Regions from separate parts of the Homo sapiens genome. Here region 1 is linked to region 2. Evidence: fine-mapped expression QTL. A gene starts in region 2. The other region holds a variant in brackets. All regions are shown on one strand. Distances are from middle to middle.

Region 1 (16,424 bases), 34 kb after region 2:
CATTGTGATTTTAATTTGCCTGTTTCTCAGGACTACTAATGTTGGCTACCTTGGAAAGTGCTTATTGGCCTTTTACAGAGCTTGTCTTGTAAAGTATCTTTTCAAGTCTACTGTCCATTTTAAAAATCAGGGTTTTTTTTGGGCGGTGAAATTATTGAGTTGTAAGCATTCTTTATATATCCTAAATGCAAGTTCTTTGTCAGTTGTACATATTGTGGATATTATATCTCATTCTGGGGTTTGTCTTTCGTTAATGAAGCCTTTTGATGAAAAGACATAATTTTGATGATGCCCAATTTATCAATTTTCTTTCATGTTTTGAGCTTTTTACATCCTCAGACAGTTCTGTTTACCTCAAAGTTGCAAATATATATATATTTTTTGAGATAGGGTCTCACTCTGTTGCCCAGGCTGGAGTGCAGTGGCACGATCTTGGCTCACTGCAGCCTCTGCCTCCCAGGCTCAAGTGATTCTCCCGTCTCAGTCTCCCAAGTAGCTGGGACTACAGGCGCCCGCCATCACGCTTGGCTAATTTTTGTATTTTTAGTAGAGATGGGGTTTCACCATGTTGGCCAGGCTGGTCTCGAACTCCTGACCTCAAGTGATCTGCCCGCCTCAGCCTCCAAAAGTGCTGGGATTACAGGCATGAGCCACCGCGCCTGGCCAAGATTGCAAAGATTTTTCTCCTGTGTTTTAAAGTTTTTGCTTTTTCTGTTTAGATATCTATTTCACATAAATTTCTGTATAAGGTATGAGGCAAGGATCAAAATTAAATTTTTTTCTATTTAGATATTCAGTTGTTCTAGCACTATTTGTTAATAAGACTATCCTTTTCTTATTAAGCTGCCTTGGTATCTTCGTTGACAATTAGTTGTCCACAATATGTTTCTGGGCTCTACTCAGTATCATTAGTTAACATGTCTATTTTTTTTACACCAATACCTCCCTGCTTTGATTACTAAGGTATTACAGTAAACCTTAAAATCAGATTGTATGAGTTCTCCAACTGTGCTATTTTTTTTCCAAAATCGTTTTGACTATTGTAGATCTTTGTTCTCCAAGTAAATTTTAGAATTACCTTCCCAGACTGAGTGTGGTGGTTCATGCCTGTAATCCCAGCACTTTGGGAGGCTGAGGCGGGCAGATCACCTGAAGTCCGGAGTTTGAGACCAGCCTGGCCAACACGATGAAACCCTGTCTCTACTAAAAATACAAAAATTAGCTGGGCATGGTGGCGCACGCCTGTCCCAGCTACTTGGGAGGCTGAGGCAGGAGAATCGCTCGAACCTGGGAGGCGGAGGTTGCAGTGAGCGGAGATCGCACCAATGCACTCCAGCCTGGGCGACAGAGCGAGGCTCCATCTCAAAAAAAAAGAAAAAGAAAATAAAAAGCCTGCTATGGTGTTAATTGGGATTGCATCAAATCTGTAGATCATTTCTGAAACAGCTTTCCTTGCATTCCCAGTTGTGTAGAAGGGCCAGGAGCAAGCTTCTGCTTCATTTTTATTGTGAAGGTGTAGCCCTTTGAAGTGTCAGATTTAAGAGGGGAACTTCTATTCTGATCCTTATTTTGGGCAGGCTCTGGTGTTTTATATCTGGCCTCCATGGCCCCCTTTTGTATCTGAAAAGTCATAAAATTGGAAACTGCAGGTCCAGTTTGTTGTATTTGGCATACATCTTTGGGACAAAGTATCTTTGGAAGTCCCCTTTCTCCACTGCTTTGCCTGTACTTCAATGTTTGCCTGATAATTCCTTATTATCTTGTCAACATTTTTATTTTGTTAGAAGATTTAAAAATATCTTCCAGCCTTTTAAATTATTTCCGATGAGAAAATTGGTTCAAATCTCTAGCTTATTACTGGAATAGCATATAGTATTTTATTTTCTAAAATGTGATCAAACTCTACTTGCTTGCCTTTTGCTTTTATCAGTGAACCTTGGCAAGCTGTCCATTGCAGTTCTTACAGAGCAATGAGCTGAATTTTTTTTTTTTTTGAAATGGAGTCTCGCTGTCGCCCAGGCTGGAGGGCAGTGGTGCGATCTCGGCTCACTGCAACCTCTGCCTCCCAGGTTCAAGCAATTCTCCTGCCTCAGCCTCCCGAATAGCTGGGACTACAGGCACGTGCCACCATGCCCAGCTGATTTTTGTATTTTTAGTAGAGACGGGGTTTCACCATGTTGGCCAGGATGGTCTCGATCAATGAGCTGAATTTTTAAGGGTTTGTAGGAGTTAGCCAAGTGAAGAATGGTGGTGGGGGTGGAGTTGGTATTGTGTGTGATGGGGTATGATGGGCCCTGACACGGTAAGTAGTTAAATCTGGCCAGAACATGGAATGTGAAGAGGGCCGTAGGGACATATGAGGCCAAAATGGTCAGCAGGGCTCACATCAAAAAGTCGAACAAGCAGTTGCTGCCACACAGCACGACTCCATGGGACATTATGATCATAGTCTGTGTGCTCCCGGACATGCTGTAATAGGAACTTTAGAAAGTTGGCTCTTACCCGTTAGTCTCAGTGGAGAGGGAAGGTAGACAGCGTATAAGAAATCCCATCACTAGAGCAGAGACCACAGAGTCCCCAAGAAGACTGTAGAAAATGCTTCTCCTAGGCTCTCCCATGGTCATAAATTCTCCAGGATTACACAAACGAATTCACGTCCCTGAAGGCGGGTGCCTTCTAGGATTCATCCCAGGCTCTATCTTACCCAGATCAGTAATGCTAAGCCAGTGATAGCCTTTTTTATCTTGAAGATAAGGGAAAAGGAGACTATCTCCTACTGGGCCAAATGGTTCGATTTGATTCAACCCTCTATCCCCAGGAATGCTGAAATACTTTTAAAGCTGATAAACCTAGGGAAACTGCCTCCTGATGCCAAGCCCCCTGTCAACCTGCTTTACAACCCAACCTCCATCTACAATGCCTGGCTCAGTGGCCTTCCCCAGCACATCAAAAGCATGGTTCTCCGCGAGGTGACTGAGTGCAACATAGAGACTCAGTTTCTTAAGGTCAGTAAACATAGCTGAGGGGGGAGCCTAGAGTTCCTGAAAGCCTTTAGCACAACAGAAATTTTAGCTTTTATTAGCACCAGCAAAAATCCCGGAAGCACCAGAATCATCTGTGGCTCTCAGTAATACAAAGTACTATACTTTGCGGAATGGCCTTCCATGGATAATGCTAGGTGGATTGATTTTCCATGTCAGGGGGTTAGCTTGGACATCTGATTTTCTCAGTGATCCAGGGATTTTCAGGAGTTTTCCAGGGAAGATAGAATGTATACTTGTCTATATTTTTTTGTTATTGTTTAGTTCAATGACACTTTAACACCTCTTTGTTCTCTTTGCAGGCTAGCGAGGGCCCAAAGTTTGCATTCCTGTCCTTTGTTGAAGCCATGTCCTTCCTTCCTCCGTCTGTCTTCTGGTCTTTTATCTTCTTCCTGATGTTGCTGGCCATGGGGCTGAGCAGCGCAATAGGGATTATGCAGGGCATCATTACTCCACTCCAGGACACCTTCTCTTTCTTCAGGAAACATACAAAGCTGCTCATAGGTACTCTGACCTAGGCCCTACTCCTAACAATGACCCTGACCCCTGACACCACTGGGACTCTTTTTTTGGGACAGGGTCCCTGTAGCCCAGGCTGGAGTGCAGTGGTGTGATCTCGGCTTACTGCAACTTCTGCCTCCTGGGTTCAAGTGATCCTCCCACCTCAGCCTCCCCAGTAGTTGGGACCATAGGCGTGCATCACCACGCCCGGCTAAGTTTTGTAGCTTTTGTAGAGACGGGCTTTCACCATGTTGCCTGGCTGGTCTCAGACTCCTGGGCTTAAGGAATCTGCCCACTTAGGCTCCCCAAAATGCTTGGATTACACATGTAAGCCCCCTCGCCCGGCTACCACTGGGTCTGCCACCAGCCCTGGTCTATGGCCTCTACTTAGCCCTTGTCACCCAGCCGTGACTTCTAACCTTGATCCAGATCTCATGTTTTCTCCAGTGGGAGTCTTTTTGCTCATGTTCGTGTGCGGCCTCTTCTTCACTCGACCTTCAGGCAGCTACTTCATCAGACTGCTGAGTGACTACTGGATAGTCTTCCCCATCATCGTCGTTGTCGTATTTGAAACCATGGCTGTATCCTGGGCCTATGGGGCCAGGAGGTGATGTCCTAAGCCCAGGTTCTCACAAAGCATGGGACTATAGGGAAGGGTGACCCCTTTTTTGTTGCCTCTACTGTCAACCCACCTAGTGTGACATAGGGACCCTTAAGTTCAGAGTCTTCTGGGAAATCTTTTTATTCATTCATCCATTTTCACATATATTTTGGGTGCTGAATATGTGCCAGGCACTATTTTAGTCATCAGGGATAGGGGCATTGAATAAAAGAAGTATTCCTATTCTCAGAAAGCTTACATTTTAGTGGTCTAGAGAGACAATAACCAGATTAGCAAATAAAGAATAAAAACGTTGAGAATAAATACAGGCGATAGGAAGAATCAAAGGATGAGGTCAGATGGCACATAGTGGGAGTGTGTGTGGGCACCAAGTCACATACGACTTCAGGGAGGGCCCTTCCGATAAGGTGACATGTGAGCAGACTCCTGAATGATAGGAGGGAGGGAGTCATGACAAGATTTTGAGTAAAGTGCTCCCTGCAGGGAAACAGAAATTACCAAGGCCAGAGGAAGCATAATGCCTAGAGTTTTTGAGAAACAAGGAAGTCAGAGAGGCTGGAATAGAAGATATTAGGAGATGGGGCTAGAGAAGTGATGGTGGCCAAGTCATGTAGGGTTTTGTAAGCCACGATAGGACTCAGCTTTGTATGCAGAATGGCAGATGAAGCATTGGAGGGTTTTGAGTAGGAGAATGACATTTTCAGGTGGGAGTGCCATTATTAGATTTGTTTTTTAAAAAGGTATTTATGGCTGCTGTCTGGAGAACAGACCAGGAAGAGTCAAGAGTGAAGCCAGGATAAGAGTTGGAAGCTATGTAATATTTCTTTTTTTCTTTCTTTTTGAGATGGAGTCTTGCTCTGTTGCCCAGGCTGGAGTGCAGTGGTGCGATCTCAGCTCACTGCAACCTCCGCCTCCCGGGTTCAAGCAATTCTCCTCCCTCAGCCTTCTGAGTAGCTGGGATTACAGGCATTCACCACCACGCCCGGCTAATTTTTGTATTCTTAGTAGAGACGGGGTTTCACCATGTTGGCCAGGCTGGTCTCGAACTCTTGACCTCGTGATCACCTGCCTCAGCCTCCCAAAGTGCTAGGATTACATGCGTGAGCCACCCCGCCTGGTGAAAGCTATGTAATATTTCAAGTGAGAGCTAAGAATGGCTTGGTCAAAAGTAGAAGAGTTGTGGATTAAGAGAAGTGGTCTGATTCTGGAAGGTAGAGCTACCTGGGAAAGAGAACAAGATAATCTGGGAGTGAGACCTGGAAGATATAGCTGTGGAATGTAAGTCTATAGTAGAGGTAGCCAGGGCAACTCCGGGGGCACAGATGGTTAGTTAAGGAAGACTGGAGAGTTGGGGAAGGTGGCCTAGAGGAGAGGATGCTTGAGCAGAGCCTGGACAGATGAATAGGTGGAGATAGGGTGATGGGCACCCTAGACCAAGAGACCCCACTTGTATATTTATTGAGATTGAGAATATGTACTAAAGGAGACTGGATAGTTGGCTGAAATAAACTAGATAAGTTTCCCAAGGGCCAAATGCCACTTTCTTTTATCTGTGTTCAGTGCTGGATATCCAGCACTTAGAAGAGTTCCTGGTATAATTCAGGGGTGAAAGCCTCAGCATTTTCATCTGATAGTGGTTCTTGGAGTCAGTTTGCTCACTTATGGACTCATTTATTAACTCACCCAACAAACATTTTCTTGAGACTTTGTGTCAGGAAAGCCTTGTGGTACTGGGATATGAATGACTTACATTGAGATACTCTTCTCAAAGAGCTCAGAGTCCAAAGAGAAAGACGTATATAAGCAGAAAATCCCAGTACCCGGTGGTAAGTCTATAGTAGAGGTAGCCAGGGAAACTCCGGGGGCATAGATGGTTAGTTAAGGAAGACTGGAGAGTTAGGGAAGGTGGCCTAGAGAAGAGGATGCTTGAGCAGAGCCTGGACAGATGAATAGGTGGAGATAGGGTGATGGGCACCCTAGACCAAAAGACCCCACTTGTATATTTATTGAGATTGAGAATATGTACTAAAGGAGACTGGATAGGTGGCTGAAATAAACTAGATAAGTTCACCAAGGGCCAAATGCCACTTTATTTTATCTGTGTTGTTCACTGCTGGATATCCAGCACTTAGAAGAGTTCCTGGCACATCATAGACATTCTCATATTTATGGGATGAATGAAAGAGACTTGGCCTTTCTCCTGAGGCCATTGGATACCCATGGAAAGTTCTTGAGCAGGAGAGGGGTGTTTGGAAAAGTTTCTTGGGTTAGGATAGAAGACAGACTGACTAGGGGGAAGATGAGAGAGGACAAGACTTGAGATGAAACAGGAGATTAGAGATACAATAGAATGTTTGAAAGATGCCAAGGTTGGGCTGGCCCTGCCTCCAAGGTGGTGAGGCCTAACTGGGCATCCCACACTCTGGTGGCCCTTCTCCAGGTTCCTTGCAGACCTGACGATCCTGTTGGGCCACCCCATCTCTCCCATCTTTGGTTGGCTGTGGCCCCATCTGTGTCCAGTTGTGCTGCTAATCATCTTTGTGACCATGATGGTTCATCTTTGTATGAAGCCGATCACCTACATGTCCTGGGACTCAAGCACCGTGAGCCTCCCCCAGGACCCAGAACCCCTTTGGGAGTAGGGGCCAGACCTTTCAATTCACTCTGGGTGAAAGAACCCAGTCATCTCATTCTCTTACTGCCCGAAGACTCATGGGTTTTCTGCTTTGGTTCCCCACCCATCCTTCCCCTCCACAACTCTTCCTTTTCTCTTGGGGATTTTGATATTCTGAACCCTTTTCCCATCTCTCCACAGTCAAAAGAGGTGCTTCGACCATACCCACCGTGGGCACTGCTCTTGATGATCACCCTTTTTGCCATTGTCATCCTCCCCATCCCTGCATACTTTGTATACTGCCGCATACATAGGATTCCCTTCAGGCCCAAGAGCGGAGACGGGCCTATGACAGCCTCCACATCCCTACCCCTAAGTCACCAGCTAACACCCAGTAAAGAGGTTCAAAAGGAAGAAATTCTACAAGTTGATGAAACAAAGTACCCATCAACTTGTAATGTGACTTCCTAACTTCATTAATTTGGCTTCACATAACATATCCCTTAGAACAGATCCAATAGACAACTCTTAATATCAGCTTGCAACTGTTGATCTCCCTGGATCCAGAACCACTTTTATTTCCAAGAGGAGGGGCATTCTTTGGGGGTGTTCATGGGGCCTGGACTTGCAATCCCTTCCTGGGTCCCATCTTACCTGGTGACCACCATCATTGTTTTCCCCATCCTCTTCCTCAACACACATACATGCACAACACATATACAATACTAGTGATGTCTACCAGTCCTGCTACTTCTGGGGTGCCTGTCTCCTGGAATGGAGCTGGAGGAGCAATGCTGTTGGTGAATAAATCAGTCTACTGGAACTCCAAGGACTGGATGTAAGCAGATCTTTTTTTCCTATAGATGTCTCAGATGTTCAGTTTTCCTGTCACAAGGCTTCCAGTCTGTATTAGTTCATTTTCACACTGCTAATAAAGACATACCTGAAACTGGGAACAAAAAGAGGTTTAACTGGACTTACAGTTCCACATGGTTGGGGAGGCCTCAATCATGGTGGGAGGTGAAAGGCATTTCTTACATGATGGCAGCAAGAGAAAAAAATGAGGAAGAAGCAAAAGTGGAAACCCCTGATAAACCCATTAGATCTCATGAGACTTATTCACTATCACGAGATTAGGATGGAAAAGACCAGCCCCCATGATTCAATTACCTCCCCTGGTTCCCTCCCATAACACGTGGGAATTCTGGGAGATATAATTGAAGTTTATATTTAAATGGAGACACAGTGAAACCATATCATTCTGCCCCTGGCCCCTCCAAATCTCATGTCCTCACATTTCAAAAGCAATCATGCCTTCCCAACAGTCCCCCAATGTCTCAACTCATTTCAGCATTAATCCAAAAGTCCAGAGTGTCATCTGAGACAAGGCAAGTCCCTTCCACCTATGAGCCTGTAAAATCAAAAACAAGCTAGTTACTTCCTAGATACAATGGGGGTACTGGTATCAGGTAAATACAGCCATTCCAAATGAGAGAAATTGGCCAAAACAAAGGGGTTACAGGGCCCATGCAAGTCCAAAATCTAGCAGGGGAGTCAAATTTTAAAGCTCCATAATGATCTCCTTTGACTCCAGATCTCACATCCAGGTCATGCTGATGCAAAAGGTGGGTTCCCATGGTCTTAGGCAGCTCCACCTCGTGGCTTTGCAGGGTACAGTCCCCCTTCCAGCTGCTTTCACGGGCTGGTGTTGAGTGTGGCTTTTCCAAGCTCAGGGTGCAAGCTGTCAGTGGTTCTACCATTCTGGGGTCTGGAGGACAGTGGCCCTCTTCTCACAGCTCCACTAGGCAGTGCCCCAGTAGGGACTCTGACTCTGTGTGAGGGCTCTGACCCCACGTTTCCCTTCTGCATTTCCCTCCCTGGCAGAGGTTCTGCATGAGGGCTCTGCCCCTACAGAAAACTTTTGCCTGGACATCCATGCATTTCCATATATCTTCTGAGATCTAGGCGGAGGTTCCCAAACCTCAATTCTTGACTTCTGTGCACCCGCAGGCTCAACATCACGTGGAAGCTGCCAAGGCTTGGGGCTTCTACTCTCTGAAGCCACAGCCCGAGCTGTACGTTGGCCCCTTTCAGCCATGGCTGGAGTGGCTGGGACACAGGGCACCAAGTCCCTAGGCTGCACACTGCATGGGGACCCTGGGCCTGGCCCACAAAACCACTTTTTCCTCCTGGGCCTCTGGGCCTGTGATGGGAGGGGCTGCCATGAATGTCTCTGATATGGCCTGGAGACATTTTCCCCATGGTCTAAGGGATTAACATTAGGCTCCTTGCTACTCATGCAAATTTCTGCAGCTGGCTTGAATTTCTCCTCAAAAATGGATTTTTCTTTTCCACTGCATCATCAGGCTGCAAATTTTCTGAACTTTTATGCTGTTTCCCTTTTAAAACGGAATGCTTTTAACAGCACGCAAGTCACCTTCTGAATACTTTGCTGCTTAGAAATTTCTTCTGCCAGATACACTAAATCATCTCTCTCAAGTTCAAAGTTCCACAAATCTCTAGGGCAGGGGCAAGATGCCACTAGTCACTTTGCTAAAACATAATAAAGAGTCATCTTTGCTCCAGTACCCAACAAGTTCCTCATCTCCATCTGAGACCACCTCAGCCTGGACCTTATTGTTCATATCAGCATTTTTGTCAAAACCATTCAGTAGGTCTTCAGGAGGTTCCAAACTTTCCCACATTTTCCTGTCTTCTTCTGAGCCCTCCAAACTGTTCCAACCTCTGCCTGTTACCCAGTTCCAAAGTTGCTTCCATATTGTTGGGTATCTTTTCAGCAACACCCCACTCTACTGGTACCAGTTTACTGTATTAGTTTTCATGCTGCTGATAAATACATACCTGAAACTGGGAACAAAAAGGTTTAATTGGACTTACAGTTCCACATGGCTGGGGAGGCCTCAGAATCCTGGCGGGAGGTGAAAGGCACTTCTTACATGGTGGTGGCAAGAGAGAAAATGAAGCAAAAGTGGAAATCCCTGATAGACCCATCAGATCTCATGAGATTTATTCATTATCATGAGACAGCATGGAAAAGACCAGCCCCCATGATTCAATTACCTCCCCCTGGGTTCCTCCCACAACACATGGGAATTCTGGAAGATACAACTGAAGTTGAGATTTAAATGGGGACACAGCCAAACCATATCACAGTCTTTCTAAAGCTAAATGTCCAGCCCTGAGTTCCTGCCCTCCCCTTGCTCTGGCAAACTCAGATACTAGATTACCAGGCTTGCATTATCCA[C/T]GGGCTGGCCTTTAGCCAAGGGAAACCTGGGAAATGGTGACTTCAACAAAGATGGGGAAGATATTAATGTGCTTGCTACTGATACATGATAATCCTATTATAGGTCTAAAATTATTTCTAAAAAGAGGTTGCACTCAAGGTTTGAACATTGTGTTGTGGACTGAGTACATCTGTAAATCAGTGCCACAACCAGTTACTAACAAGCTGTTTCACTGAGCTCACCAAGAGTCCCATTTCTGCTCAGTACTGGGCACCACTGGTTTTTATCCCAGGGTCAAATCAACTGAACTTGCCCAGTGGATGATCACTGAGTGGGTCTTTAAGAACTTGTGGGAGGGTAGTGCCATGAGGGTGCTGAAGTACTCCCCAAAAGGAGACTGGGGGGCCTGTCAGTTACCTGCTGGGGATGGGGGCTGTGGACAGAGGTGATTGGGATTCCCAAAGATCCAGGGAATGGGTTTCCCTTAAATGCTCAGAGATCTCAGGCTTTTAGATTGCTTAGAGCCCACGGGTAAGTTTCAGTGATAAAGGAAAAGAAGACACCCCCAACCATTGGCAGGCAGGACTCAAGAGGTGGATCTGCAGAAAGGAAAGAGCAGAGGCATCTGAAGTTTCCAGACCTCTGAAGTCTGGCTCTTCAAGCTTGAAGATAGGAGGGCTGGAGGGGCGTGCACCTCTGTGTCATCACCCATTGGCTCCTGTGCCCTATTAGGCCAGCCCATCCACCCCCCAAATTCCAAATGCTCTATCTGCTTGAAGACTTGCACTATTGAATCGGGTAATGTGGGGATGGGAGAGAGAAGGCGGTGGGCTCCTCCTTCTCATCAAATAGTCTGGGTCTTCAACCTCCTCCCTTTTGGGAACCAGGGCACTCATCCTCCCTTCTGCCTCAAGGCCCCTCCCACCTACCTCCCCACCATCCCCGGTCCAGTTTTGGAGGTGGAACTTGGGAGAGGGGGATTGAAAAGTAGGGGCTTACCATCTCAAAGAAAGAAAGAAAAAATATTTTATTTCTCTCTTAGTGTGTTTCCCTCTCTCTCTCTCTCTCTCTCTCTCTCTCTCTCTTTCTTTCTTTCTTTTTTGACAGAGCCTTGCTCTGTTGCCCAGGCTGGAGTACAGTGTCTCGGTCTTGGCTCACTGCAAACTCTGCCTCCTAGGTTCAAGCAATTCTCCTGCCTCAGCCTTCTGAGTAGCTGGGATTACAGGGGTGCACCACCACGCCCAGCTATTTTTGTATTTTTAGTAGAGACAGGGTTTCACCATGTTGCCCTGTCTCTAGACAGTCTCGAGACAGTCTCGAGAGTCACATGTAGCCCTGTCTCGAGAGTTGCTGGTCTCGAACTCCTGACCTCATGATCTGCCCATTTTGGCCTCCCAAAGTGCTAGGATTACAGGCGTGAGCCCCTGCACCCAGCCTTTTTTTTTTCTTTTTTTTGAGACAGTCTCGCTCTGTTGCCCAAGCTGGAGTGCAGTGGCACGATCTCGGCTTACTGCAACCTCTACCTCCTGGGCTCACGCGATTCTTATGTCTCAGCCTCCCAAGTAGCTGGGATTATAGGCGCACACCACTGTGCCCAGCTAATTTTTGTATTTCTAGTAGAGATAGGGGTTTTGCCATGTTGGCCAGGCTGGGCTCGAACTCCTGGCCTCAAGGGATCCGCCCGCCTCAGCCTCCCAAAGCGCGTGAGCCACTGCACCTGGCCTAATTCTGCTTTCTAATTTGCATCCCTGACATGCGGGACGCTTCAATAGGGATGGCGCCACGTTCAAGAGGCTGAAGAAGAGACCCAGGGCTAGCAAACGAGAAATAGGGTTTATTTGAGATAACTTACAGGGTGATCCAGTGGTGATGAGCTGGACAGGAGAACCACACCCACTTGCAAAATGCATGCAGTTTATATGGCACTTTCACTCAGCACCCTCCCCCAGCAACCTCCATGCGGCAGCCCTTATCCTCAGGGTGTGCTTAAGTTATTGCTGCCAGGTGCGTCTACCATATACCCTCACTCCAGCATACCCACCTTGCTGTGTTTTTTTTGTTTTTGTTTTTCATTTTTCTGAGACGGAGTCTCACTCTGTCGCCAAGGCTAGAGTGCAGTGGTGCGATCTTGGCTCACTGCAACCTCCGCCTCCCAGGTTCAAGTGATTCTCCTGCCTCAGCCTCCTGAGTAGCTGGGATTACAGGTATGTGCCACCACACCTGGCTAATTTTTGTATTTTTAGTAGAGATGGGGTTTCACCATGTTGGCCAGGCTTGTCTTGAACTCCTGACCTCAAGTGATCCACATGCCTCGGCCCTCCCAAAATGCTGGGTTTACAGGCGTGAGCCACTGCGACCTGGCCACTCTAGCATACCTTTGAATGGCCCTCACATTCTTGTACCGTTCTTCCACCATTTCCCTGGGGCCAGGTATGCGGAGGAGCATTGCAGCCAGACACCACAGCAGCAATACAAACTACAACAGAAAAAATAATGAATATAAAAGTGGCTTCAGGTACTCAGGTTAACTGCTGCGAGGCACCACGGCAGGCCCGCAGTGGAGGAGAGGGGCAGCTCTCTGCAGACCCAACAGTCTGTTTTGTTCTGGAGAGAGACCACCGTCTGTGCTCAGCTGGCAAGAGGTTTGCTGCATACCATCTATGGGTGAAAAGTGAGATGTTTAGTGAGTACAAGAAGGGGCAAGTCATGGTCATTTTTTTCTTTTTGAGACAGAGTTTCACTCTTGTTGCCCAGGCTGGAGTGCAGTAGCTGGATCTCGGCTCACTGCAACCTCCGCCTCCTGGGTTCAAGCGATTCTCCTGCCTCAGCCTCCCAAGTAGCTGGGATTATAGGCGCCCGCCATCATGCCCAGCTAATTTTTTGTTTTTAGTACAGGTGGCGTTTTGCCATATTGGCCAGGTTGGTCTCAAACTGCTGGCCTCAGGTGATCCACCCACCTCGGCCTTCCAAAGTGCTGGGATTACAGGCATGTACCACTGCACCCAGCCTCATGGTCATTTTACAAGAAACAGGAAGTTGTGTCCTTCTGAGACAGCATCACCCCGAGAGTGGCCTGGTGCTTGGTTTGCAATACCAAATAGGTTGGCCCCCTCTCTACAAAGTGTCACATGAGGCTGGAGTAAGACAATAGGGATATTATGCAGTGTGGGCATCCAGACGCTAGACTGTTACATGCATCCCCCAGGTGCAGTGGAGAATGTTCTTCTATATCAGCCCCCCAAAGGGGGCTGCCTGCTACCATCCAATCCTGTGTTTCTCCTTGTAGTAGGCACATGGTGGGCCCCTTAAAGATGGTGCCCAGATGTCAGTGCACAGGACTGTTGGGTCCGGCTCCTAGAAGAAACCATCCAGGCAGCTCAGCCCATTGGCTACATGTCCTTTGCCTGTATCGAGCCAGATACTCTCAGTGGACAGCTGGATACAGGTGGAAGGATTGCCTCGTGACAAGCCATCTGTGTACCAGGCCTGGTCAGGAATTGGGGCCTGTCCCTCTTATATAAAGGAGGGAATATGTGGAGGCTCAGTGCCTTGTCAAAGACTGTCCTTCAGCTGTCACATAGGTGACAGGGCCAAGCAGCAAACGGAACCCTGTGCTAGTTCGTGTACTCCTCTGTTGCAGGCATGCGTGCCATTTGGCCACAATCTGTTTCTGGGCATTCCCAGATTTTGGTTTCTGGAAGGTGTCCTACTTTCGACTAGGATAAAGGCTAAGGCCTCAGGATCCCGATAAGAGCAATGGTGGCTGAGTGTCTGGAGACTGGCGGCCACATATAGAGCTAGCTAACTATATATTGGTCACCTAAGAATGCACAGGCTGGCTGGGCGTGGCGGCTTACGCCTGTAATCCCAACATTTTGGGAGGCCAAGGTGGGCGGATCACCTGAGGTCAGGAGTTTGAGACCAGCCTGGCCAACATGGCAAAACCCTGTCTCTACTAAAAATACAAAAATTAGGTGGGCGTGGTGGCGGGCACCTGTAATCCCAGCTAACCTACTATGGGGTACTGGGTATGTACTAGCATGGGAACCCCTTTGGAACATCTTCCACTTGCTGTAAGGCATAACACGTAGTGCAGAATTATAGCTCCCTGACACTGTAACTTCAGTCCCCTTCCATAGCTGGAACCAGAATCCTAAAGGTACAAGTTTGTGTCCTTGCCTTTGCCACTGGTCCCAGTTGGCCCCCTTCTTGACTAAGTGGTACAGTGGCCTAAGGAGTTGAGCCAAATGGGAAATAAAAGGACACCACGGCCTTAGAAGAACTAAGAAGGTTTGCAGCCACTTTGGTGGTGTAGGATGTGGGTAGGCCTGCACCATATGTAGAATGGCAAATTGAACACCGTTAGTCTTACCCAACCAGATGACACCAAGTATTGGACTGATAAGCCTGGACCCTGCCTTTGTCTGCATTGACCGCCCATCCTCTGTTAACCAAGTGAGACAGCAAGGTGAGGGCTATAGAGACTCAGAAGTTAGCTGGCAAAAGACTCAGAATTTAACATCAATGTAAAGGAAAACATGTACCCTCTCCAGGGTAGTCCATCTACTGAGGTCTGTGGCCACTAGGCGTTGACAGATAGTGAGGCTATGGAAATATCCCCGCGGCAAGACAGTAAAGGTATATTGTTCTCCTTCCCAGGTGAAAAGGTTAGGCTTTTTTTTTGAGAGGGAGTCTCGTTCTGTTGCCCAGGCTGGAGTGCAATGGCGTGGTCTCGGCTCACTGCAACTTTCGCCTCCCAGGTTCACACCATTCTCCTGCCTCAGCCTCCTGAGCAGCTGGGATTACAGGCGCCCGCCACCACGCCCAGCTAGGGTTAGGCTTTGTGTCCCCATCCAAATCTCGTCTTGAGTTGAAATCTCTATAATCCCCACGTGTCAGAGACACCAGGTGGAGGTAATTGAATCATTGGGGCGGTTTCCCCCATGCTGTTCTCGTGGCAGGGAGTGAGATCTCGCGAGATCTGATGGTTTTATAAGGGGCTCTTCCCCCCTTCGCCCGGCCTCGTGAAGAGGGTGCCTTTCTTCCCCTTTGCCTTCTGCTGTGATCGTAAGCTTCCTGAGGCCTCCCCAGCTATGCTGAACTGTAAGTCAATTAAACCTCTTTCCCTTATGAATTACCTAGTTTTGGGCAGTTCTTTATAGCAGCTTGAAAACGGACTAATATACCAGGTGAATGCAATGACAAAATGAGGTGCGTGCAGTCCCTCTCTTATCCTCATAAGAAAGGAGGCGATATGAGAACAGCTGCATACATTAGGGGGACGGCTTTGTTGAACTCCCAGTAATATGTCATTCTCCGTGTCCCATCAGGCATCCACATGGGCCATGCAGGGCTATTGTATGGGCTGTTCACTGGTCTTATAATGTCTACCCAGACTTCTTTCCTTTTCAGTCCCTATGATCTCATCATGACCTCCTGGCAGGTGTTGTCGTTTCTTTTTTCTTTTCTTTTTTTTTTTTTTTTTTGAGACGGAGTCTTGCTCTGTCGCCCAGGCTGGAGTGCAGTGGCACGATCTCAGCTCACTGCAAGCTCCGCCTCCCGGGTTCGCGCCATTCTCCTGCCTCAGCCTCCGGAGTAGCTGGGACTACAGGCACCCGCCACCGCGCCCGGTTAATTTTTTGTATCTTTTAGTAGAGACAGGGTTTCACCGTGTTAGCCAGGACGGTCTGGATCCTCTGACCTCGTGATCCGCCTGCCTCGTCCTCCCAAAGTGCTGGGATTACAGGCGTGAGCCACCGCGCCCGGCCAGGTGTTGTCGTTTCAATGCTGCTATTCACAGAGGGGCTGGCAGCTGTGCTGGTGTCCATTTCGCATTCCCCTTGATCACGCGCCTCACCATCCTAACTCAGTCGCAATTCAGAGGGTCACAGTCCTGATGAGACAGCCCTTCCCAAGATGTAATCTGGGATAGGAGCTCTGTATACTAAATAGGGTTTGGGCAGCAGTCTCCTAACTTGTAATACTAGCTCAACCTGTCTGACTTTCACGACCCCCGCCCCCACCGACCATCTATTGTTATAGGCCACTGGAACCACGGATGTCACCACATACGAGAGTGCATTCAGCTCCAGTATCCGCTGGGAACAGCCTGTACATTCTTGTTTTTTTGTTTCGTTTTGTTTTTGAGATGGAGTCTCACTCTGTCACCAGGCTGGAGTGCAGTGGCACGATCTCGGCTCACTGCAACCTCTACCTCCCGGGTTCAAGCGATTCTCCTGCCTCAGCCTCCAGAGTAGCTGGGATTACAGGTGCCCAGCTAACTTTTGGTATTTTTGGTAGAGACAGGGTTTCACCATGTTGGTCAGGCTGGTCTCGAACTCCTCACCTCGTGATCTGCCCACCTCAGCCTCCCAAAGTGCTGGGATTACAGGCGTAAGCCA
Region 2 (16,424 bases):
AGTGGAACACCAGGAGCTACCAGAAACTGAAGAGTCAAGGAAGGATTGTCCTCTGAGCCTTTGAAGGAAGTGGCGTGCTGACACCTTAATTTCGGACTTTTGGCATCCAGAACTGTGAGATAATATATTTTTGTTGCTTTAAGCCACCAAGTTTGTAGTAATTTATACAGCAGTCTCGGGAAGCGAATATACCTGCTCAATCAGAAACTCTGGGGGCGGGCCTGGCAATCTGTTTTTTTTTTTGTGTTTTTTTTTTGTCTCACTCTATTGCCCAGGCTGGAGTGCAATGGCACAACCTCGGCTCACTGCAACCTCTGCTTCCCGGGTTCAAGCGATTCTCCCGCCTCAGCCTCCTGAGTAGCTGGGATTACAGACACCCACCATCATGCCCAGCTAATTTTTGTATTTTTAGTAGAGACAGGGTTTCACCATGTTGGCCAGGCTGGTCTTGAACTCCTGACCTCAGGTGATCTGCCCACCTTGGCCTCCCAAAGTCCTGGGATTACAGGCAAGCCACTGCACCTGGCCTGGCAGTCTGTGTTTTAACAAGCCTTCCTGGTGACTGATGTGCACTAACGTTTGAGAACAGCAATTCTACCCATTGAATTCACCTGATCCCCTCCTCCTTTACTGGCAAATTCCCTCTTGCTTTTCCTCCTTCCTTCTTCACTGGCTGGTTCTCCTCAATCTTCATTGGATCGTCCTTTTTCTAGCTTCTAAAATTTGGGGAGTCCTAGCCCTTTCTAGCTACACTCACTCACGAGATGATATCATGCAGTGCCATAGTGTTCATCGCAATCTACAATACTGTTGACTTACCAATTTATATGCCTAGCCTCAAACTTTCCCCTGAACTGCGGACTCAGGAAGATTCATTTCCCAGGTCTCCTTGCAGTGAAGGACAACTTAACCTCTGCCTTTGGCTGTATAATTGACATCTCAAACTTAACACGCCCAAAACGAAACTATTGATTCCCTCCCACCTCCTGCACACTCCAGTACTTTCCTTTTCAGTAAATTGTCACTCCATCTTCCAATTCTTCAGGCCCAAAGTTTTGGAGTCTTTTTTTTTTTTTTGAGGTCTTGCTCTGTCACACAAGTGGGAGGGCACTGGCACGATCATGACTCATTGCAGCCTCAATCTCCTGGGCTCAAGTGATCTTCCCACTCAGCCTCCTGAGTAGCTGGGACAACAGATGCGTGCCACCACACCTGGCTATTAAAAAACACTTTTCTTTCCTTTAAGAGACAAGGCCGGGCTGGGCACGGTGGCTCACGCCTGTAATCCCAGCACTTTGGGAGGCCGAGGCGGGCGGATCACGAGTTCAGGAGATCGAGACCATCCTGGCTAACACAGTGAAACCCCCGTCTCTACTAAAAATACAAAAAATTAGCCAGGCGTAGTGGCGGGCGCCTGTAGTCCCAGCTATTCGGGAGGCTGAGGCAGGAGAATGGTGTGAACCTGGGAGGCAGAGCTTGCAGTGAGTGGAGATCGCACCACTGCACTCCAGCCTGGGCGACAGAGCGAGACTAGACTGTCTCAAAAAAAAAAAAAAAAAAAAAAAAAGACAAGGCCTTGCTATGTTGCCCAGGCTAGTATCCTACTATCAAACTCCTAGCCTCAAGCAATCCTCCCACCTCGCCCTTGCAAAGTGCTGGGACTACAGGTGCAAGCCACCGCTCCCGGCTGAGTCATTCTTGATTCCTCTCTTTCTCTCAGACCCCAAACCTAATCACCATTAGTTTTCTAATGCTCTGTAACAAATTACCCCAAATTTAGCAGTTTAAAACAATAAACATTTCTTAGGCCAGGAGCGGTGGCTCACTGTAATCCCAGCACTTTGGGAGGCTGAGGCAGGCAGATTACGAGGTCAGGAGTTCGAGACCAGCCTGACCAACATAGTGAAACCCCGTCTCTACTAAAAATACAAAAATTAGCTGGATGTGGTCCCACCTGTAGTCCCAGCTACTCGGGAGGCTGAGGCAGGAGAATTGCTTGAACCTGGGAGGCGGAGGTTGTGGTGAGCTGAGATCGCACCACTGCACTGCAGCCTGGGCAACAGAGCAGGACTCTATCTCAAAAAAAAAACACAATAAACATTTCTTACCTACTGTAGTTTTTGTGGGTCAGGAATCTGGGAGCAGCTTAGTTGGATGATTTCTGCTCACAGTGTTTTATGAGGTTGCAGTCAAGATGTTGGCTGGGGCTGTAGTCATCTGGAGATTTAACTACGGCTGGAGGATCCACTTCACCATGGTTCACTCACCTGGTGCTGGTTGCTGGCAGGAAATTTCAGCTCTTCTCTTATATGGATCTCTTCACAGATTGCTTGAGTGTCCTCACCGTATGGTGACTGGCTTCCTTTACAGAAATCAGTTGAAGGGAATGGGCAAGTAAGAAACAGCAATGCTTTTTATGACCTAGTCCTGAAGTTCCCCACCATTACTTATGTTCATTGGAAGCCAGTTGCTAAGGAGAGCCTGCACTCAAAGATTGGGGAAATAGACTTTATCTTTCAAAGTGTTGAAGAATTTGCAGACGTATTTTAAAACCACCACACAATCCATCAACACATCATGTCGGCTCTATTCTTGAAATAGATCCAGAATTTGACCACTTTTCACCATCTCCATTGCTATTACCCAGATCTAATCAACACCATCACTTGCCTGGACTAGAGATTTCCTCCTCACTGGGCTCTCTGCTTCTATCTTTAGCCCATTGCTATGATTTGGCTGTGTCCCCACCCAAAATCTCATCTTGAATTATAATCTTCATAATCCCCATGTGTCAAAGGAGAGACCAGGTGGAGGTAACTGAATCATGGGGGTGGTTTCCCCAGGCTGTTTTTGTGATAGTGAGTGAGTTCTCATGAGATCTGATGGTTTTATAAGGGGCTCTTCCCTCCTTTGCTTGTGAAGAAGGTGCCTTTTTTCCCCTTTGCCTTCTGCCATGATTGTAAGTTTCCTGAGGCCTCCCCAGCCAAGCTGAACTGTGAGTCAATTAAACCTCTTTTCTTCGTAAATTACCCAGTCTTGAGCAGTTCTTTACAGCAGTGTGAAAACAGAGGAATACACCCATACATGCTATTCTCTGCCCAGAAGCCAGGGGGAGCCTGCCATTAAAATGAAAGTCACTCCTTGACTCAGAACCCTCAAATAGCTTTCATCTCACCCAGAAAAAAAAGAAAAAAATTCCGACCATGACCTATAAGGGCCTCCAAATAATACTCTGGCCCCTGCCACTGCTCTGATCTGATCTGTTGCTACCCTTTCCTCAATCACTGGGATCCATTCATATCAGACTCTTTGCCATTTCCAGAACCCATCAAGTGTACTTCTTGCCTCAAGGCTTTTGCTGTTGCCATTTTCTTTGCCTGGAATGTTCTTCCCTATGCTGTTCACAAGGCTCCCTTCCTTCAGCTCTCTGCTGAAATATCACTTTCCCCAAGAGTCCTTCTTGACTACCCTGTCTAAAGTAACTCCCTATCAGCACTCTTACTCTCTGAAATTCTTTCTATTTAGGCATTTACTTTCTTTGTGCAACTGGAACGTAAAATCTTTTTCATAACTATATCCCAGGGGTCTAGGACAGTGTGGGGCACATCATTCAATAAATATTTATTGACCGACTGAGACTTTTCCTGGTGCCTTGAACACACAGTTTGCCCTGCCTCAGGGCCTTTGCACAGCCTCAAGGCTTGAGATGTTCACACACATTTTTCACCTAGCAAATAATCCTTTAAGCCTCAACTCCAGTGTTATTTCCTTAGAGAAATCCTCCTTCTAAATTAGGTCTATGGGCCGGGCGCAGTGGCTCACGCCTGTAATCCCAGCACTTTGGGAGGCTGAGGCGGGCGGATCACCTGAGGTCAGGAGTTCAAGACCAGCCTGGCCAACATGGCAGGCTGACTCTACTAAACCCTGACTCTACTAAAAATATGAAAATTAACCAGGCGTAATGGCAGGCACCTGCAACCCCAGCTACTCGGAAGGCTGAGGCAGGGAGAATTGCTTGAACCCGGGAGGCAGAGGTTGCAGTGAGCCGAGATTATGCCACTGCACTTCAGCCTGGGTGACAAAGTGAGATTGTCTCAAAAAAAAAAAAAATTCGATAGAAATAAATAGGTCTGTGGCCCTTTTCTGTCGCAGCACTTTTTTTTTTTTCCTTGAGACAGGGTCTTACCCCATCACCCAGGCTGGAGTGTAGTAGTGTGATCTTGGCTTACTGCAACTTCTGCCTCATGGTTTTAAGTGATTCTTGTGCCTCAGCCACCCGAGTAGCTGGGATTACAGGCGTGCACCACCACACCTGGCTCGTTTTTGTATTTTTAGTAGAGATGGGGTTTCACCATGTTGGCCAGGCTGGTCTTGAACTCCTGGCCTCATGTGATCCGCCCACCTTGGCCTCCCAAAGTGCTGGGATTACAGGCGTGAGCCACCATGCCCGGCCTGTCATAGCACTTAATACAATTTATAATCATGTAATTATTTGAGATTCATCATATATCTGTTTTCTTGTTGTGTGAAGCAAAACGAGGGCAGGAATGGGGTCTGTTTTGTTCTCTACACTATTCCCAGTTCCTAGCATTTAGTAGACTCTCGATAAATACGTGTTGAAAGATTGAATGATTCCCAAAGATTGTGATGAATTCTTACAGCACCCCCAAAATTTCCTCTTCATCTCTTTGTTCAATCATAACAATTTAAGCCTTTCATTCTCAAAGTGTGGCTCAGGGACTCCTGGGGGCTCTTGAAACACTTTTGGGGGTCCATGAGGTGAACATTATTTTCATAATACTACTAAGATATTATTTGCCTTTCACTTTCATTTCCTCTTTGAATATAGTGATGTTTGCCAGAAGCTACAAGACATGAGCTATTTTGACACACTCAGTGCAGAAGCAGATATGAGAATCCAGCTGTCTTCTATGAAGCCAGACATTAGAGAGATTTGCAAAAATGTAAAATGATGCCATTCTTCTCCCCAAATTTTTTCTTTTTTTTCCTTTTTTTTTTTGAGACGGAGTCTTGCTCTGTTGTCTAGGCTGGAGTGCAGTGGCAAAATCTCGGCTCATTGCAACCTCTGCCTCCTGGGTTCCAACGATTCTCCTGCCTCAGGCTCCCGAGTAGCTGGGATTACAGGTGTGTGCCACCACGCCCGGCTAATTTTTTTTTTTTTTGACTTTTAGTAGAGACGGGGTTTCATCATGTTGGCCAAGCTAGTCTCGAACTCCTGACCTCGTGATCCACCCGCCTTGGCCTCCCAAAGTGCTGGGATTACAGGCGTCAGCCACCGCGCCCAGCGCCAAAATTTCTTTTGGAGTAGAAATTATAGTTATTTTAAATAAAAATGTTATTTTGACACATAATGAATTTTTAAACAATGACTATTTTAGAAATTTATTTTAATATTGATAGATACAACTCACATAAACATACAACCCATATAAATGTAACTCATAAATTATTGGAGTCCTTAATAATTCTTAAGAGACCGGAAAGTATGAGAACGGATGACCTAAGTAAATCTTTGAGTTTTTAATTCTTGTCTGCAGCCCTAGTAGGCTTCTGAGCTCTCTTAAGGCAACGTCCCTGTCTGCCTTGTTGGACGCATATTTAAGGTTTGGTTTCTAGTAGGCGATCTTTAAGTAAATGCGAAAGGTTTGAAGGCTAGAAGGAATGAATGAGACGATTCTCCCACTTCCTACCCTCTTCTTCCTTACATGAAGTGGAAGCAAAGTGCATGTGCCAGAGAAAGGCCTTGTCTTAGAGCCCCGCCTGAAGCGTGGCATCGTGGGTGTCGGGGTGGGGTGCGGTGGGGAAGGGAGTGGCGCGTGAGCAGTCAGAGGATGTGCACACGTGCGTGCGTGTGGGGAGAGAGCAGGGAGTTGGGGAGGGCGAAGTGGTTACAGTGTTTGCTACAGCTGTAGGGAAAGAGTGAGGGGGCGCGGCGGCGCATGCGCAGAGAATCGGCGGGAAAGGCCGCGCGCCAGGCAGATCGAGGGGTGTCGCCCAAACCGATCTGTCGACGCCTGAAGGGGCCTGAGGAGATTGCTAGGCTTCTCAGCTGGGGCTTCTTCACCCTCATTTTTGTCCGACTGGCTGGACTGAAGAACCTGGCAGAAGCCTTGGGGCTAGGGTGAGGGTCACGGCCCAGGGAGCCCTAAAATGTTCCCACATCTGGGGTGTGTGGGGCTGGGCGCCATTTTCGAGGCCCGGGCCCACTGGGCTCCACTGACGGGTGACAGGTGACTGGCTGGGAGCCTCCTGGTTGCCCTGGGCTCTGTGGAGCTGAGGGATCAAAGGGGTCCCTCCTTTACCCCCCACGTAGGACAGAGGAAACTGTCTTCGGCTCTCCTCACTCATCCAGTCCGAGTTTGAGCCAATTCCTTGACAGGATTCGGCCATCAGTCCCTGCCTTTGGGGAAAGCCATCAGTGTCAAGTGCCCGAGTGGCAGAAACCCGGGTCTAGCCCCATCACTGGTCTGTTAGGGCAGTTATTTTCTGCTTTTTGCAGAAATGGGACACCAGCTCCTTATTTTCCTTTTCTGGAGGTTATAGTTCCAGGGAAGGAGGTAATGTGAGGGGAATGGGCATTTCTGGGGGATCCTGAGCACTCCCCACAGGGCATGAGCCTAGGAGTTGCTTGGGATGACGGTGTAGGGGCACCATGGAGGGTTGCACCCATATGGGAAGAGGAGTCCGCCTGGGGCTCAAGGGGCTTTATGGATGTTGGAAGTGGCCAGCTGGCCAAAACTCAGTTCTCTCCCTTCCGTAAAGCTTGCTTTTAAGGACAACTGTTCTAGAATGTGTTTAAGAAACATGAATCTATTATTTTTTATTTATTTATTTATTTGAGATGGAGTCCCACTCTGTCACCCAGGCTGGAGTGCAGTGGCACGATCTCAGCTCACTGCAACCTCTGCTTCCCAGGTTCAAGCGATTCTCCTGCCTCAGCCTCCCAAGTAGCTGGGACTATAGGCGTGCGCCACCACCCCCAGCTAATTTTTTGTATTTTTAGTAGAAACGGGGTTTCACTGTGTTGGCCTGGCTGGTCTCGAGCTCCTGACCTCAGCCGATCCACCCGCCTCAGCTTCCTAAAGTGCTGAGATTACAGGTGTGAACCCCCGTGCCCAGCCTATTATTATTATTTTTAAGAGACAGGGTCTCTCTCTGTCTCCCAGGCTGGAGTCCAGTGGCATGATCACCTCTCACTACAGCCTCGAACTTCTGGGCTCAAGCAATCCTTCCACCTCAGCCTTTCAAAGAGCTGGGATTACAGGCTGAGCCACTGGAGGCTTGGTTTTCACTTATTTTGGGTGTATACCCAGAAGTGGAATTGCTGGATCATATGGTAATTCTATTTTTAAGTTTTTGAGGAACCACCATAGTGTTTTCCATGGTGGTTGCACCATTTTACATTCTGACCAGCAAGGCACAAGGATTCCAATTTCTCCACATCCTCACCAACACTTCTTATTTTCTGCCTTTTTATATTAGCCATCCTAATGGATGCGAGGTATTATCTCATTGTAGTTTTCATTTGCATTTCCTTAATGATTAGTGACGTTGAACATCTTTTCATGTACTTCTTGGAGATTGGTATATCTTCCTTGGAGAAATGTCTATTTAAGTCTTTTGCCCATTTTTGAATTGTGTTGTTTGTTTCTTTGTTGTTGAGTTTTACGAGTTCTCTATATATTCTGAATATTAATCTCTTATTATACATATGATTTTCAGATATTTCCTCCCATTCTGTGGGTTATCTTTTCACCCCTTTGATAGTGTCTCTTGATGCACAAATTTAAAACATTTTAATGAAATCCTGTTTGTTTCTTCTTTTGTTGCTTTTGCCTTTGGTATCATATCCAAGAATTCATTGCAGATCCACTATCATGAAGCTTTTGTCGTATGTTTTATTCTAAGAATTTTATAATTTTAAGTGTTACATTTAGGTCTTTGATTTATTTTGTGTATTTGTATGTGGTGTTAGGTAAGAGTCCATCTTTACTCTTTTGCCTGTACATAATCCAGTTTTCCCAGCACCATTTGTTGAAAAGACTGTCCTTTACTCATTGAGTAGTCTTGGCACCCTTGTAAAAAATCATTTTTCCATACATTGTTTCTGGGCCCTCTATTCTGTTCCCTTGGTCTGTATCTTTATGTGAGTAACACACTATTTTGATTACTATAGCTTTGTAATATGTTTTGAAATCAGGAAATGTGAGTACACCAGCGTTTTTCTTCTTTTTCAAGATTATTTTGGCTGTTCAGGGTCCCTTGAGATTTCATGTTAGTTTTAGGACGTGTTTTTCTATTTCTGCAAAAAAAAAAAAAAAAAAAAAAAAAAAAAAAAAAAAAAAAAAAAAGCTACTAATTCTGTAGATTGCTTTGGGTAATACTGACATCTTAACAGTGTTGTCTTCCAACCCATGAACATGGGATATTTTTCCATTTATTTATGTCTCCTTTAATTTTTTTCAGCAATGTTTTGTAGTTTTCTTTGTACATGTCTTTCACCTTCTTGGTTAATTCTTTTTTTTTTTTTTTTTGAGATGGAGTTTCACTCTTGTTGCCCAGGTTGGAGTGCAATGGTGCAATCTCGGCTCACTGCAACCTCTGCCTCCCAGGTTCAAGTGATTCTCCTGCCTCAGCCTCCTGAGTAGCTGGGATTACAGGCATGTGCCACCATGCCTGGGTAACTTGGTAATGGAAACGGGTTTTCTCCATGTTCGTCAGGCTGGTCTCGAACTCCTGACCTCAGGTGATCTGCCCACTTTGGCCTCCCAAAGTGCTGGGATTACAGGCTTGAGCCACCGTGCCCAGCCAAGTTAATTCTTAAGTATTTTATTCTTTCTGATGCTATTACAAATGGAATTGTTTTCATAATTTTCTTTTCAGATTGTTCATTGTTAGTGTATAAAAATGCAACTGAGTTTTGATTGTTGACTTTGTATCCTGCTACTTTGCTGAATTCATTTATTAGCTCAAAAATTTTTTTGGTGAAAATTTTAGGATTTTCTACGTATAAGATCATATAATCTTTCTAGTTTGGTTTCCTTTTATTTATTTATATTTTTGCCTAATTTCTCTGGCTAGGACTTCCAGTACTATGTTGAATAAAAGTGGCAAAATTAGACATTCTACGCTTGTTTCTAATCTTAGAGGAAAAGCTTACAGTCTTTTATCATTAAGTATGACATTTGCTGTGAGTTTTTCGTATATGGCTATTATGTTGGGATATTTTCCTTTTTTTTTTTTTGCTGAGACATGGTGTCACTTTGTGACCCAGGCTGGAGTGTAGTGGTGTCATCATGGCTCACTGTAGCGTTGACCTCCTGGGCTGAAGTGATTCTCCCATCTCAGCCTCATGAGTAGCTAGGACTACAGAAGTACATCAACACACCCAGGTAATTAAAAATTTTGTTTGTTTGTTTGTTTGTTTGTTTTTGAGATGGAGTCTTGCTCTGTCACCCAGGCTGGAGTGCAGTGGTATGATCTTGGCTCACTGCAACCTCTGCCTCCCAGGTTCAAGCGATTCTCCAGCCTTAGCCTCCCAAGTAGCTGGGACTACAGGTGCACACCACCACATCTGACTAATTTTTGTATTTTTAGTAGAGATCAGGTTTCACCATGTTAGCCAGGCTGGTCTTGAACTCCTGACCTCAGGTGATCCACCCGCCTTGGCCTCCCAAAGTGCTGGGATTACAGATGTGAGCCACTGCACCTGGCCCCAGGCTGGTCTTGAACTCCTGGGTTCAAGTGGTCATCAGGCCTCCCAAAGTGTTGGGATTACAGGCATGAGTCACCATGCCCAGCCGTATTTTCCTTTAACTCCTAGATTGTTGAGTTTTTTTTTTTTTTTTTATCATGAAAGGGTATTGAGTTTTGTCAAATGTTTTTTCTGCATCAGTTGAGAGAATCATTATTTTTCTTTCATTTTGTTAATGTGGTATATTATATTGATTGATTTTTGTATGCAGAACCATCCTTGCATTCCAGGAATAAATCCCACTTGGTCATGGTATATAATCCTTTTAATATGCTGCTGAATTAGGTTTGGTAGTATTTTTTTTGAGGATTTTTGCATCAAAGTTCATAATGAATATAGGTCTGTAGTGTTCTTTTCTTATAATGTCTTTGTATGGCTCTGGTATTAGGGCAATGTTGGCCTTATAGGATGAATGAGGAAGTGTTCCCTCCTCTCCAATTTTTTGGAAAAGTTTGAGAAGGATTGATATTAATTCATTAAAGGTTTAGTAGAATTCACCCATGAAGCCATCAGGTCCAGAGCTTTTCTTTGTTGAGAGATTTTTGATTACCAATTCAATCTCCTTACTAGTTATAGATCTATTCAGATTTTCTGTTTGTGATTTAGTCTTAGTAGATTTGTATTTCTAGGAATTTGTCCATTTAATCTAGGTTATCCAGTTTATTGGTGTACAGTTGTTCATAAGTTCATAGTACTCTCTTATAATCCTTCTATTTCTGTAGAATTGGTAATAATGTCCCCATTTTCATTTCTGGTTTTAATCATTTGAGTCTTCTCTTTTTTTCTTAGTACATCTAGTTAAAGGTTTGTCAATTTTGTTGATATTTTTAAAGAAACAACTTTTGGCTTCTCTATTGTTTTTCTATTCTCTATTCATTTCTGCTTTAATTTTTATTATTTTCTTCTGCTAGCTTTGGGTTTAGTTTGCTTTTCTAGTTTCTTAAGTTTTAGAGTTAGGTTATTGATTCAAGATCTGGTTTTTTTTTGTTTGTTTGTTTGTTTGTTTTTAGAGGGAGTCTTGCTCTGTTGCCCAGGCTGGAGTGCAGTGGTGTGATCTCGGCTCACTGCAACCTCCGCCTCCTAGGTTCAAGCGATTCTCCTGCCTCAGCCTCCTGAGTAGCTGGGATTACAGGCGCCCACCACCATGCCTAGCTAATTTTTGTATTTTAATAGAGATGGGGTTTCACTATGTAGGTCAAGCTGGTCTTGAACTCCTGACCTCAAATGATCCACCCACCTCAGCCTCCCAAAGTGCTGGGATTACAGGCGTGAGCCACTGCATCCGGCCTCTTTTTTGTTTTTTAATGTAACCATTGATAGTTATAAATTTCCCCCTTGGCATTGCTTTTGTTGCCTCCCATAAATTTTAGTATGTGTGTTTTCGTTTTCATTTATCTGTAAGTATTTTCTAACTCCCCTTGTAGTTTATTCTTTGATCCATTGGTTGTTTAAGAGTGTGTTGTTTAATTTCTACAAATTTGTAAAATTTTCAATTTTACTTTTGTGATTCATTTCTAACTTCATCCTATTGTGGCTGGAGAAGATATTTTGTATGATATTTATCATTCTAATTCTATTGAGAAAAAAAGGAAATTTGTGGCCTACAAATTTGTGGTCTCTCCTGGAAAATGTCCCATGTGCACTTGAGAAGAATGTGTATTCTGCTGCTGTTGGCTAGAGTGTTCTGAATACATCTGTTAGATCTGGTTGGTTTATTGTGTTAAGTCCTCTATTTCCTTGCTTATCTTCTGTCTGCTGCTTCTGTCCATTGTTCGTAGTGGGGTATTAAAGTCTCCAGTTATTATTGTAGAACTGTCCTTTTATCCTTTCAATTATGTGAGTCTTTTCTTGATATATATATGTATATGTATATATCGTATAGGTATATGTATATACATATACACATATACACATATATGTATAAGTATATGTATATACATATACACATATACACATATGTATATGTATATGTATTTATATGTATATACAAATATATATATATACACACACACATATATGAAGGAATTAGGGAGGAGTAAAGAAGAGTACTTGGTCAACATACAGCAGGTTCATCTCATTGTACAAATGTAAGTTTCTCAAGCTTCAGTTCTATGGGCATCTGGCTTGTTGGAAAATTGGCCTGGTTTCATTTTCCCATCCTCCCTTTATTTTGGACCTCCAGTTACACATTTTAGGCCATTTGATATTGTCTCACAGTCACTAATGCTCTGGTAATTGTTTTCAGTCTTTTTTTTTTCTTTGTGCTTCATTTTGGATTGTTTCTATTGCTATATCTTTAAGTTCACTGATTTATTAAAATCTGCCAGTAATCTTCAGTGAAATTTTCATTTCAGGTGTTGTATCATCTCTAGAAGTTCTATTTGATGTTTAAAATATATCATGGCTAGGCATGGAGGCTCATGCCTGTAATCCCAGCACTTTGGGAGGCCATGGTAGCTGGATCACATGAGATCAGGAGTTCGAGACCAGCCTGGCCAACATGGCAAAACCCTGTCTCTACTAAAAAAAAAAAAAAAAAAAAAAAATAGCCAGTTGTGGTGGTGCACACCTGTAATTCCAGCTACTTGGGAGGCTGAGGAAGGAGAATTGCTTGAAACTTGGAGGCAGAGGCTGCAGTGAGCTGAGATCAGTGTGGGCAACAGAGTGAGACTCTGTCTCAAAAGAGAAAATATCTATCTGTCTGTCTAGCTAGCTAGCTATCTAGCTATCTTATATTCCTCATTCTGTTCATGTTTTCCTTTTAAGTCCTTGACCATATTAAGCATATTTGTAACAGCTATTTTAGTGTTATGGTGTGTTAATTCCATTAGTCTATCATTTCTGTTTTTGTTGTCTGATTATGGGTCACTTTTCCTGCTTTTTTGCATGTCTAGTAATTTTTGACTAGATGGTTGACATTATGAATTTTTTGTTGTTCAGTGCTAGGTTTGTCTGTATTATCTTAAGGAATGTTGGCCTTTGTTGTGACAGGCAGTTAAGTTACTTGAAGATCAGTTTTGGCTGTTTAAGGGTTGCTTTTAAGAATTTTTTTTTTTCAGGTCTAAAGTAGTCCTACTACTAGAACTAGAGCTAGTTTATGCCACTTTAAATGTTCCAAGTATTCAGTAAAGTCTCTCCACACTGGCTGATGGAAACTTGAGTAATTCTTGTTCTTCTCCAAGTTCTAGGAATTGTTTTACCTGTAGTTCCCCAGTACTTTTCTTTCCTTGGAATTTATTCTTTGCCTGTTCTTATGAGGTTTCATACTATACATGTGCAGGTTGATATTTAGCTAATGGCTCGAAGGTACTTTATCCAGATTCCTAGAGCTCTTTCTCTGTGGCTCCCTTCTGTTGAGTACTTAGCCCAGCTAATTCTAGTCACCTAAGCCTTCCTGAACTGACTTTTGCCTCCTCAAGTGCTGAGACTGCCAGGCTCTGTTTGTATTCTTCCTCCTGTGCCAAAGTTTGGAAATTAGCAGAAAAATGGGGCAATCGTGCAATTAGTTACCTTGTTTTCTGGCCTTTTTTTAGAGATTGCAATGCTGTACTGCCTTTGTTTAATATGTGAAAATAGTTGTTTTAATTATTTGTACAGTTTTTTTTTTTTGAGACGGAGTCTCGCTGTGTTGCCCTGGCTGGAGTGCAGTGGTGCGATCTCTGCTCACTGCAAGCCCCACCTCCTGGGTTCACGCCATTCTCCTGCCACAGCCTCCCGAGTAGCTGGGACTACAGGCGCCCGCCACCATGCCCGGCTAATTTTTTGTATTTTTAGTAGAGATGGGGTTTCACCATGTTAGCCAGGATGGTCTTGATCTCCTGACCTCGTGGTCCGCCCGCCTCGGCCTCCTAAAGTGCTAGGATTACAGGCGTGAGCCACGGCGCCTGGCCTATTTGTACAGTTTTGTAGTGTTTTTGTGGAGGTAACTCCAGACACTGTTTTGCTTTCATGGTCAAAAGTGGAAATTTCTTCTCCCCATTTTTATCTGGATCCTGTATATCCTTCATTTCTATGTTTTCTTAAAATTATCTTTTAATTAATTAATTTTATTTTATTATTATTGTTATTATTTTTGAGATAGGGTCTTACTCTGTTGCCCAAGCTGGAGTGCAGTGGTGCAATCTTGGCTCACTGCAACCTCCCCCTCCTGGATTCAAGTAATTATCTCACCTCAGCCTTCCGAGTAGCTGGGGCTACAGGTGTGTCCCACCATGCCTGGCTAATTTTTGTATTTTTTGGTAGAGATGGGGTTTCACCATATTGGCCAGGCTTGTCTTAAACTCCTGACTTCAAGTGATCCTCCTGCCTTGGCTTCTCAAAGTGCTGGGATTACGGGCATGAACCACTGCACCTGGCCTATTTTATTTTATTTTTTTAGAGAATGAGGTCCCACTCTGTTGCTCAGGCTGGAGTTCAGTGGTGTGATCATAGCCCACTGCAACCTTGAACTCCTGGGCTCAAGCGATCCTCTCCACTTAGCCTCCCAAATAGCTGGGACCACTGGCGTGTCCCACTATGCCTGGCTAATTTTAATTTTAATTTTTTTTTTTTTTTTTTGGTAGAGATGGGTTTTCACTGCATTGTCAAGGCTTATCTTGAATTCCTGGCCTCAAGTGATCCTCCTGCCTTGGCCTCCCAAAGTACTAGGATTACAGGCATGAGCCACTGTGTCTGGCCTATCCTTCATCATTCTTGTTCTTGTATTGCTCAATTTGGCTTTACTCACAGGAATTTCTCCTCATTGTGGCCTCTGGGTTGGAAAAGATCCCTGGTTGGTTAATTTTAAGAGTTCATAGAATCTAGTCTGCCCTGGTCCCTTCAGTTTCTATTGTTGACTCCATGCACTCAACTGTTATTGGATTAGGCAAGACATCTTCTAGTTTTAGCTGCTGTTCTCTAATAGCCTTCCCATGATTTCTGGTGAGTACCTGTTGATTATTTTGAGAGACTGGTTTCCCTGTCCCCCATCCCCAGGTCTGTCAGATGCTCTCTTGCTTCCTTTGTTTCCTCCCACACAGATGCTGATTCTATACAGGTCTGTGGCTCTTGTGGTTTGTTCTCATAGACTTGTCTTTTGGGGTTTATCTTGATATTGTAAATATTATCCATGGATTTTGGGCTTGCAATCTAGTAGAACTACTTGTTTTCATGTGAGTATTTGGGAAGATTTTAAAACAATGTTGCTGTTATTGCCATTACCTTCCCAGGATTTTACTCTATATTTAAAAAATTATTTTATAAGTGGCATTATTATTTTAAAATTTTATTTTCTAATTATGTATTGCAAGCATAGACATATAAATAATTTTCATTTATTGCTGTTTGCATCCAACAATCTTGCTAAATTATCTTATTAATTTAAATAATTTATCTGTAGTATTCTGGATCTTCCACATAGATATATCATCTGTGAATAGTGAGTTTTGTTTAATCTTTGTCTTTTATTCCCCTTGCTTTCCTGTGTTGTCTAAAATATTTAATGCAATGGGAAGGAAGTGCTGATAGCTGGTTTCATTGATTGTTCTTGATTTCAAAAGGCAAGCTTTCTTCACTTCATTATTAAATATGTGCCTATGTTTAAGCATATGTTCACTATTAAGTATAATCTTTTTTTTTTGAGAGACACCATTTATCAGGTTAGGGAAATTATTCCTGGTTTGCTAAAAGTTTTTCTCCGTAAATCATCATTGTATTGTATGTTTTTCCTATATCTCTTGAGATGATAATATTTTTCTTCTTTATTATATCAATGTGACTAATTATATTGATTTTCTCTAGTGGTATGCTTTGAATCATCTCTACTGAGTTTTTTGCTTTGTAGTTACCACGAAGCTTACATAAAACATCTCCTGCCTCAGCCTCCCAAAGGGCTGGGATTACAGGCATGAGCCACCATGACCAGCCCCAAAGGCTGGATTTTTGTACCTAATTTTTTCTTCAGCCTTTTCTTCCCTGCATGATTTTCTGCTTCTCTCTTAATGTTATGGAAGCATCATTTGTCTCAGGGAGACGCCCATCAACCCACCAATAACTCCAATAAATCCAATAACAGAGGAGTGGCCCACCTGCTGTTGCATTCTCTGGCATACAGCTTCTGGAAGCTGTTGGTTCACTGGAGCAGAAGGTCTTTGGCAAGTGATTGTTTTTATTTCCCACAAGTTGCTGGGAAAGTATTTACTTACTTCCTGAAACACTGAACCACTTCATCAGGAAAAAGAGATGTGAACTGACTCCTCAGTGATTACAGTTTGGTCCTGTTTCTTGTTTATGTAGCAGAAGTTTCTCTGTTTTTGACATGAGGATGGAACCTATTTTTCAGAAATGATGCAGATATCCCCATATTTGTAATATTTTAAAATCATTGGTTTTTTTTTTTGTTGGGTAGGGGGAGATTGTGGGTAAGTTTGGAGATTGGTGTTCATGTGGCTATCTTAGAAGAAACTTCCTTTTGTTTTGATGGTGAATTGTAGGAGTGGCAGGTGCTTGGAAGTTTAAAAAATTTAACAAAATTTTGACATAATTTCAGACTTACAACACTTCCATCTTTCCTTGTCTTTATTGACTGTGACATTTTTACTGAGCACAGGCCAGCTATTTTACAGAATGTACTTCAATTTAGATTTGTTTTCTGGTGTTTCCTCACGATTGG

Evidence for each region.
Region 1: its variant is fine-mapped to the expression of SLC6A16 in whole blood (TOPMed, PIP above 0.99).

The regions. Positions count from the first base shown.
Region 1 is chr19:49,280,948-49,297,371 of GRCh38, reverse strand. It overlaps SLC6A16 (solute carrier family 6 member 16), which reads left to right. Exons shown (of 12, transcript NM_014037.3): 8 at 2,819-3,005; 9 at 3,344-3,545; 10 at 3,990-4,149; 11 at 6,605-6,767; 12 at 6,980-7,734. The coding sequence ends at 7,249. Among named protein-coding and RNA genes, the nearest start is that of MIR4324, 20 kb to the left of the region's middle. The variant C/T (reference allele first, on the strand shown) is at 10,044.
Region 2 is chr19:49,314,766-49,331,189 of GRCh38, reverse strand. SLC6A16 (solute carrier family 6 member 16) reads left to right here and starts at 5,999. Exons shown (of 12, transcript NM_014037.3): 1 at 5,999-6,142. RefSeq lists a silencer at 3,741-3,892 and an enhancer at 4,686-4,835.